Regions from separate parts of the Homo sapiens genome. Here all the other regions are linked to region 2. Evidence: fine-mapped expression QTL. A gene starts in region 2. Each other region holds a variant in brackets. All regions are shown on one strand. Distances are from middle to middle.

What was found. PIP is the estimated chance that this variant, and not a neighbour inherited with it, causes the effect.
Region 1: its variant is fine-mapped to the expression of LINC01081 in testis (GTEx, PIP above 0.99).
Region 3: its variant is fine-mapped to the expression of LINC01081 in stomach (GTEx, PIP above 0.99).

The regions. Positions count from the first base shown.
Region 1 is chr16:86,326,210-86,329,057 of GRCh38, forward strand. No RefSeq gene overlaps it. Among named protein-coding and RNA genes, the nearest start is that of LINC00917, 18 kb to the right of the region's middle. The variant G/A (reference allele first, on the strand shown) is at 1,076.
Region 2 is chr16:86,285,049-86,287,896 of GRCh38, forward strand. LINC01081 (long intergenic non-protein coding RNA 1081) reads right to left here and starts at 1,199. Exons shown (of 6, transcript NR_104139.1): 1 at 1,006-1,199. LINC02135 (long intergenic non-protein coding RNA 2135) reads left to right here and starts at 1,383. Exons shown (of 3, transcript NR_038438.1): 1 at 1,383-1,501. RefSeq lists an enhancer at 103-788.
Region 3 is chr16:86,221,732-86,224,231 of GRCh38, forward strand. It overlaps LOC124903744 (a long non-coding RNA gene), which reads right to left and starts at 1,341. Exons shown (of 3, transcript XR_007065165.1): 1 at 1,203-1,341; 2 at 786-1,126; 3 at 1-42. The variant G/A (reference allele first, on the strand shown) is at 961.

The DNA.
Region 1 (2,848 bases), 41 kb after region 2:
TGCCAGAGCTTCTGCACTCTGTTACATTGCTCACATGCTTCTCTTTCTTATTTAATTATGTCTTTTTTTCTCAGTGACAGGGTTCTTGTGTTATTTAATTATTTTTTTTTTTTTGAGATAATGTCTCGCTCTGTCACCTGGAGCTGGAGTGCAGTGACATGTTCTCAGCTCACTGCAACCTCCGCCTCTTGGGTTCAAGCAATTCTCCTGCCTCAGCCTCCCAAGTGGCTGGGATTACAGGCACCCACCACTACGCCTGGCTGATTTTTGTATTTTTAGTAGAGACGAGGTTTCATCATGTTGGTCAGGCTGGTCTTGAACTCCTGACCTCAAGCGATCCACCTGCCTCGGCCCCACAAAGTACTGGGATTACAGGCATGAGCCACCGTGCCTGGCTGTGCTATTTAAATTGTAACCTTACCCTAGTGCACAGTAGGATTAAAATTGTTTTTATTTGTAGGAAATTTTAGTCTATCACTTTATCTGTTATTTGAATACTTAAAAATACACCATTCACTTTCATATCATTATCTATCTATCAATCATCTATCTATCTATCAATCTATGAGAAATAAGCACTGTGGAAATAAGGGAGATGAGAATTGAATAGTAGAATGAAGTTTGGGATAATGTAGACATAGAAGTTCCTAATTTAAAGTTATATACAATTTCCAAATGGTCATAAATTCGCCTCTGAGTTTCCTAAGAGCCAAAACACAAGAGAAATAAGGTAGCTTCTTCCAGGATTTCAGTGTGTGTGTCTGTGGGGGGCGGGGGGGCGCAAAGTTTAAATATAGAAAACAAAAATGTTGCTTGGCATACATGCAATGTACCCTCATGCCCGACACTGCAATCCGAGAGGAAGCCCTTGACATAGTAGATGCCATGCTGAATGTTGTCCCCAGGACTTCAAAGATCACATTTGTCTATTTCCGACTTTGTTACTCAAGATAAACCAAAGATGCGGGGCCACAGCTCTAACTGGTGAAAAGAATCCTAAGAGGGCTCACAGCAATGCCACGGCCAGAGGACGGCAGCCAAGGGCTAAATGTGCTGGCTCTGGATTCAAATCCTG[G/A]CCACTTACTTGCTGTGTGGCCACTTCCATGGGACTTTAGCCAAGCTGCCTCATCACCTCCTGAGCCTCAGTTTCTTCTTCTGTGAAACAGAGTTAAAAATGAACGTGCATGAGACAGTGGGGCCACCTCCTTGCCTGGAGTCCAAGCTGCCTCTGCGCACGCCCACCTCCTCCATGCTTTTCCTCGCAGCTTGTCTCTGCCGTCTAAGGTTCCATGGTGCCTCCCACATTCCCAGACGTTCACGGCCTGAGGCCAGAACACTCCCCATTCCCGGAGTTGCACCTGACCAACGCCCTGGCCATGGAGTCATCACAGCAGCCCCACAAACACCAGCATCCATGCCAGAGCTTCCCACTGAGAGTGGGTTTCAGATGGGGCCGTTCTTTACTCTTTCCACTCCCTCAGCAATGCAAAGAAAGGGAAGGAACCAACAAGAGGCCTCTTTTCTTTTCTTTTTTTTTTTTCTTTTGAGACAGAGTCTCGCTCTTTCACCCAGGCTGGAGTGCAGTGCCACAATTTTGGCTCACTGCAACCTCTGCCTCCCAGATTCCAGCAATTTCCTGCCTCAGCCTCCTGAATAGCTGGGATTATCGGTGCCTGTCACTACGCCTGGCTGATTTTTGTATTTTTAGTAGAAACAGTGTTTCACCATCTTGGCCAGGCTGGTCTTGAACTCCTGACCTCATGATCCACCCGCCTCTGCCTCCCAAAGTGCTGGGATTACAGGCGTGAGCCACCATGGCCCGCCTTTTAACTTGGTTCTTCTGTAGCAAAAGGGTGAGCCCGCCCAAGTGATACCAATTCATGAAAGCCAGGATGTCAAGGAACCGACATCAGACACACAGCCAAATGCTACCAGTTGGCCCTGCAATTGCCTTTCATTATTCTTTGTGAACTGACAGTAAAACTCTTTGTGAAAGGCAGTAAGAAAACATCCAGGACTCTCTTGGACTCTGGGCTGCTGGGTTTGGTTGTGCAGGTTGTTTACTGCCCAAGGTGCCTGGCCAAGGAGACACGTGGGGGTTGAAGGCCAGCCCATCCTGCACTCCCCAGGCCTTGCACCTGGCTCAGGGCTAGATATGTCAGGAGAAAAAGCACCTTTTTCTAATTTGCACAAAGATGCCATAGGGGCTACTGGCAGCCGGCTTAGATCACTGGCTGGTAAGCCCCCTGTCTTTGTGTGGTTTCTACCTCTTTTTGTTGATGGAGGTTTCCAAATTGAAAGCAAGCATTGAAAGCATGTTGTGGGGATTTGGGGCATGAGGCTGCAGTGAGCCAAGATCATGCCACCGCACTTCAGCCTGGGCAACAAGAGTAAAACTCCATCTCATTAAATAAATAAATAAAATAAGTGACATAGTATTTACTTTAAAATACGTGATTTAGTAAAATAAGCAATGTATAGCTAAGGTTATCTTATAATTTATCATCAAAGTGAGACATTTTTCAAGTAAAGGGCCCACTGTGATGAGTGTGCCGGGACCGCAGCCGTAATTCAGGAAGGTCCTGAGGAAACCAGTATTACATTTGCCTCAGTTGAACTCTGTAATATTATTCTATGCCGTCAGGGTGTTTGTAGCATGGAAAACCACTCACTGCATTTGATCTATGGGTGTCCATCATCCAGATATTATTATTGTCCCCGTGGTCCCTACAGAAGTTGCCTCCAGTGTTCTCATAAAGTAGGAGGGTAAATGCAATGCGGAGAACTTGACTCAGAAAATACAGAATAAATTTTCAGTAATTTTGAAAGTAAAAGAGAAAGACAGTTT
Region 2 (2,848 bases):
CAGGCCATCGGCTCCCTGTTCAACCTCTTTGGGCCTCAGTTCCCCCATCGGTGAGATGGAGGTTCTCTGCTGCTGCATTATGGGGGTGGGGGTGGTGTGGGAAGGGTGCCAGGGATTGGGCACAGGAAAGCACCCCCAGCCCAACTGCTGAGCTGCCAGAAACCTGGAGAGTATATGAGGTGCCACTTTAGGGCATTCCCTGTTTCGTTTCAGGGTTCCTGTATGGAACCTGAGACCACCAAAGGCACGCTGTGGTGCCGAGACCCAGTGCCTGCCTCTCTCAGTAGCACTGTTCCAAAGCCATCAGCTCTTTCCTCCCCTTCCCATCCCCCACCTCTGGACTTAGTTCATGAATCTCCCTCCCCTATTCCCTTCTCCTCTATTGGGCCCACCCAGCTCCACATAGTTTTAGCTCCTGGTACCCTCCAGCACATTCTACAGAGACCCCAGGTCTGTGCTCCACACTCCTGCCTTTCATCTGGGTTCCCAGAAGCTGCAGGGACAACAGAGACCACCTTGTGCCCCACCCACCTTCCTGGGTGGACACCCAGATGCTAGGCTCTGAGACCCCTTCCTATGGAAGCACAAAGTCCCCCCTCCGGGCTGGGCCGCCCACCACTGTGCTGTCCACACCTTCCGGAGGGAGGCAGGTACCTGTGGGTAGAGCTGGGGAGCCCCAGCGCACCATTTCAGGACTTGGAGAAAATAAAATAACCTGGTCGCACCTCAGTTTGCATATCAGTGAAGTGCGATGATAAATAGTACCTTCCTCCCAAGGTCAATTGTGAGGATTAAAACAGAATATTCACAAAAGTCCGTAGCTCTCTAGACTATAAGCGCCTGCTTCATTCGTAGCAGGTGCTGTGACTATTATCATGATTATTTCACCCTAAAACACTTTGAATAGGACAGCGGAAAGACCCTTGACCCCTCCGGGGACAATCCAAGAGCCCCTTGGCTAAAACAGAGCCATGAAGCCCCACTAGGCTGGGCTTTGAGACTAACCTCACCACCACCCTCAACCTGGTGACCCAGCACAGGTTCGCTGTCTCGCTGTGTAGCCCCGGGTGTAATCCATGTCTGGAGATAGAACACTGGAGCTCAGTGGGGCCTGAGCTTTCTGGAGTGAGGGTCACCGCAGGGCATGCACTGGAAATCCAGATCCCTGGGCCGCTCCCTGGGAAGTTCTGATCTAATATGTCCAGGCTCCTTCTGGGATCTGTTTATTAAGCATCAGGATGATTCATATGACTCCGCCGTTGGAACACTGGAGCCTGCGCGGGTGTCAACGCTTGTTCACTTGTTACAGGTGAGGTCACCCCTTTGTCACGCACCTCGGGCCCTGCGCCCTGGTGGTCCAGGGCTGGTGCGGGGGCTTAGGTGCAGCCTCTCCCACGTGCACCTGCGAGGCCTACCCTTTCTCCCGTCTCAGGGCCTTGATGCCCGTGCCTGTGAAGCTGGCATCAGCGAAGACCTCAGACGGGAAGGGATGAGTGAGCAGGTGTGCCCCCAGGGACCCCACGCGCCCCCCGCCCCTTCGCGCACCGAGGTCGTCCTGCGTCTCCGGGATCCCAGGCCAGCGGGAGGAGGGGCCGCAGGGGCGCTGCGGGCAAGGGGAGCCCAGTGCGCAGGGCTCCAGAAACCCCGACCCTCGCAGGGGAGAGCCAGCCGAACCAGACGTGTGGGGGCAGCAGCCGCCGCGGCGGTCTGGGACGCGGGTGTCGCCTTCCACGGGACTTGGGTCCAGGGACCCAAGACGGGGATCTGGGAGGAGGGGGATGCCCTTGGGGCCTGAGACCCGGGCGGTTTCCGAAGCGAAGTAGTTACCCAGAACCGCTCCCTACCTTCTCCCCGCCTCCCTGTCTTTCTGCCCCTCTGTCCCCTGCAGCTGCTCGGCCCTCCCTCCTCTGAAACCCACCGCCCGCCCAAGGCTCACTCCTTCCTGCTGTTCCCGCCCGCGAAGCTGTTGCAGGGACGGTGCGCCCTTGGGCTGCACTCACCACCGCCCCTCGCCCGCGACGTCCTGGCCCCCTAACCCCAGCTTTCCCGCCGCCGCTCACTCCCGCGCTCCGCTGCAGCTCAGCCCGGTCTGCAACTCTCCCTCTGTTTTCTGCCCCGCTCCTCAGTTCTGCGCTCTCCTCTTCTCCAGGCTTCCCTCTCCTCCTCCTTCTGCCTCTCCCCTGTCCCCGTTCCATTCTCCTGCGCCCCTCGCCAGCGCGCTCGCAGCCCATCGGCTCCTGCCGGGGCCCCTCTGGTGCCAGCCGCCTTCAGGCTGTGGGTCCGTCCGCTGGTGGAGGGGAAGGTCGGGGCTGGCCCCGGGCCCCGCGCTGCTGGGCCCCATGGTCAGTGGAGACGCCTCCTGGTCTCCCTTCAGAGCTCCTCGTCGTCGTCGGAGTCATCGGAGGACCAGGAAGGAGGACCCCCCACCAGCTGCCGCAGCCTCTGCTGCGAATCCCCCCACACCACACCTCTCACCCCAGAAGCACAATTATCATTGCCCAGCCCCTTTCAGACAAAAGGAAGAGCGCGGTGGGGATGATCAGAGGGAACCCTGACTCAATTCATGGTGTGCGTGCGTGCGTGCGTGCGTGTGTGTGTGTGTGTGTGTGTGTGTGTGATTGATTGATTGATTTTTAACTAGAGGGGAAAAATTCCTAAGAAAATGGGCAAAAATTACAGATTGTCCCATTTTTGTCCAGTATTATCATTGGAAAGGGAGGAAGATGAAGAAAGAGCCAGTGTTTGTGGAGTTTGTTTCAGGCTAGAAATAGAAAAAGGCTGCAGTTGATTAAGGAGGTGGCCAGAGAAGCAAAGTTTGTTGAACGCTGAAGATCACCTTGTAAAGGTG
Region 3 (2,500 bases), 63 kb before region 2:
TCCTTTGTAAAATGGGGTAGTAACAGCATCCACGCCATAGGGCTGTTGAAGAGATTTCATAAATCAATGTATGTTAAACAGGACAGTGCTTGGCATGTAGCAAGTGCGGCATAATTATTAGTTATCATTATCATCACTGAAAATAAATCATCTATGTGTTAAAACAGGCATAGAATATCCCTGGAATGATACCCCAGAGCCACAGGTACTAGGGATTGCCATTGCCATTGTTAGGGAACCCGAAAGACTGACAGACAGGATGAGGTGGAGGAAGACTTACTTACATTTAACTTGTGTCTTTGGAGTTTCTACCTAGTGTCTGTATTCAGAATTTTTGAACATGTTAATGAAAATTAGCAACATGAAGAATTGTACAGTGAGCATCGATGTACTTATCATCTAGTTTCTGTAATTGCCATGTTGGTCTGTTTAGTTTAACACACGTCTATCCCTCCATCCATCCAGACGTCCGTCAATACACTTTGATGCCTTTCAAAGTAAGCTGTAGATCTCAGAGCCCATCCTCCCAAACACTTCTGTATGTGGATCATTAGCCAGACTTTCGTATTTGTTTATGGGCTTTCCTTGTTAGGTAAAATGTATATAGAGTCAAATGCAGACATGTAGTATACTGTTTGATGGTTTTGACAATGAATTGTCTATTCAAAATTTAATTATCAACAAATGACATGTGACATGTGGATACCTTTATACGAGAGAGAGAGAGAGAGAGAGAGAGAGAGAGGAAGAAACTGAGACAAACCAAAATAGTATTTTGAACTCACTGAGAATGAAAAAAAACATCATGAGCCAATGTGATAACTTATCAGGTGGAGAAGGATTTACAAGTGATCAAGATTTTTGCAGACAGGTCGCAGTCATGCGCTGTTTCTGTTCCCGGAGGGCAGTCTCCTTCTGGAACCTTCGCAGCTAGCTTCTCAGGCAGGAGGCATGGCGGCT[G/A]AAGTCGGGGCTGCTGGTCTCCCCCTGCAGGGATTTGAATCCCAGTCCCTCCTCTCACGAGCTGCGTCAGCTTGGAGAAGTTACTTAGCTTTTCCGAGCCTTCGCTTCTTCATCTGGGAGGGTTGCTGCTTCCTGCTTCTCGGCTTTGTGGGGAGGATTCTGTGAGCTAAAATACATGGCACGTTTAGAACACCTGGCACCTGGCGGTCCTTAAATGCTGTCTTTTGCTATTAATCACATACCTCCCTATCTCTGCTTTTAAAAAAATTGAATAGAAGAAGCCAAACGTGCAAGGTTAAGAGCTTTTCATCCTCAAGGAAAAAACTTCATCTCTCCCTGCAGCTTCTCTGTCCTCCCCACCCTGCAAAAAGCCGGGGAAATGAATCAGCCTCCAGCCTCTTGCTTTTTCTAATTCTTTGATTACTGCATGATTGCAGCATCCACTCAGTCTGGGGCTAAAAAATCGAAAGAAAACAAAAATTCTTGAGCCATTTCCAGATACCGAATCTGACTCAGTGTTGGCAAAACCTACAAAATGAGTGACCAAGAAGGATAAACAAGTTTAGGTAAACACTCTATAGACTGATTCATGATTTAAGTACATCAGTTAGCATTTAGCTTCATTTACCATCGTGTTTTAATGTCATTAAGAATGTAACTTCTTAGAAAAACTAAGAGAGTCTGTTTTTAGCCCAGACATGCAATTAAGGGAATTAGTAACGTGATACATCATCCTCAGGAACTCTGATATAGTAAGAAATCTCGTGCAACCCTTTATAAAGACGTTCTTACAACCGACGCCAGAGTTCACGGAGTTTCAATGTGAGGGCAGCAGGGAGCAGGAAAAAAAAAGGAAAAAGAAAAAGAATGAAATTACTGTCTTGCTCTGAACAGCAGTAAGAAAGGGTCTGGAATCGTGTGCAGATATTAAATAGCATAAAATAGGGGTCCATTCTGGAGAATTAAGTCATTTTCTGTCTGGAACACAACTGTGTTCAAGCCTCCCTGGCTCCATCTTTGCAGAGGTTCATGTGTGTGAGACTGGGCTGGAGTTGGGAAAGCAGAGAAAGGATTTTTTTTTCTTTCCTTTTAGGGATTTTGACAGAGAATTCGTTTTCTGACAAGCTTTGGGAGTTTAGTTACAATTTCTGGGAGCTTGGGATCATCGAGGTCAGGGCTTCTCCACCTGGGCACTGCTGATGGAGAATCTGGGCTGTCCTGTGCGCTGCAGGATGTTGGGCAGCATCCCTGGCCTCCACTCACCAGGTGCCAGTAGCACCCCCCTCATGGTGATGACACCACTGAATGTCCCTGGGGGCAAAATCACCCTTTAGTGAGAACCACAGCTCTTGATGAATCTGTGTGTTTCGCAGATGAGGAAACTGAGTTTCAGAGAGGGTAAGCTCGAGTGAGACCCAGGAGCAAAGTACAGGGGAGGAGGTGGCACGGAGCAGTGGCAAATCAGGGTGTCAGGACCAAAGCCCAGACCCTCCACTCCATTCCTGGGCAATCAGGTTGCAATTCTCAGTCTCCCTAAGGA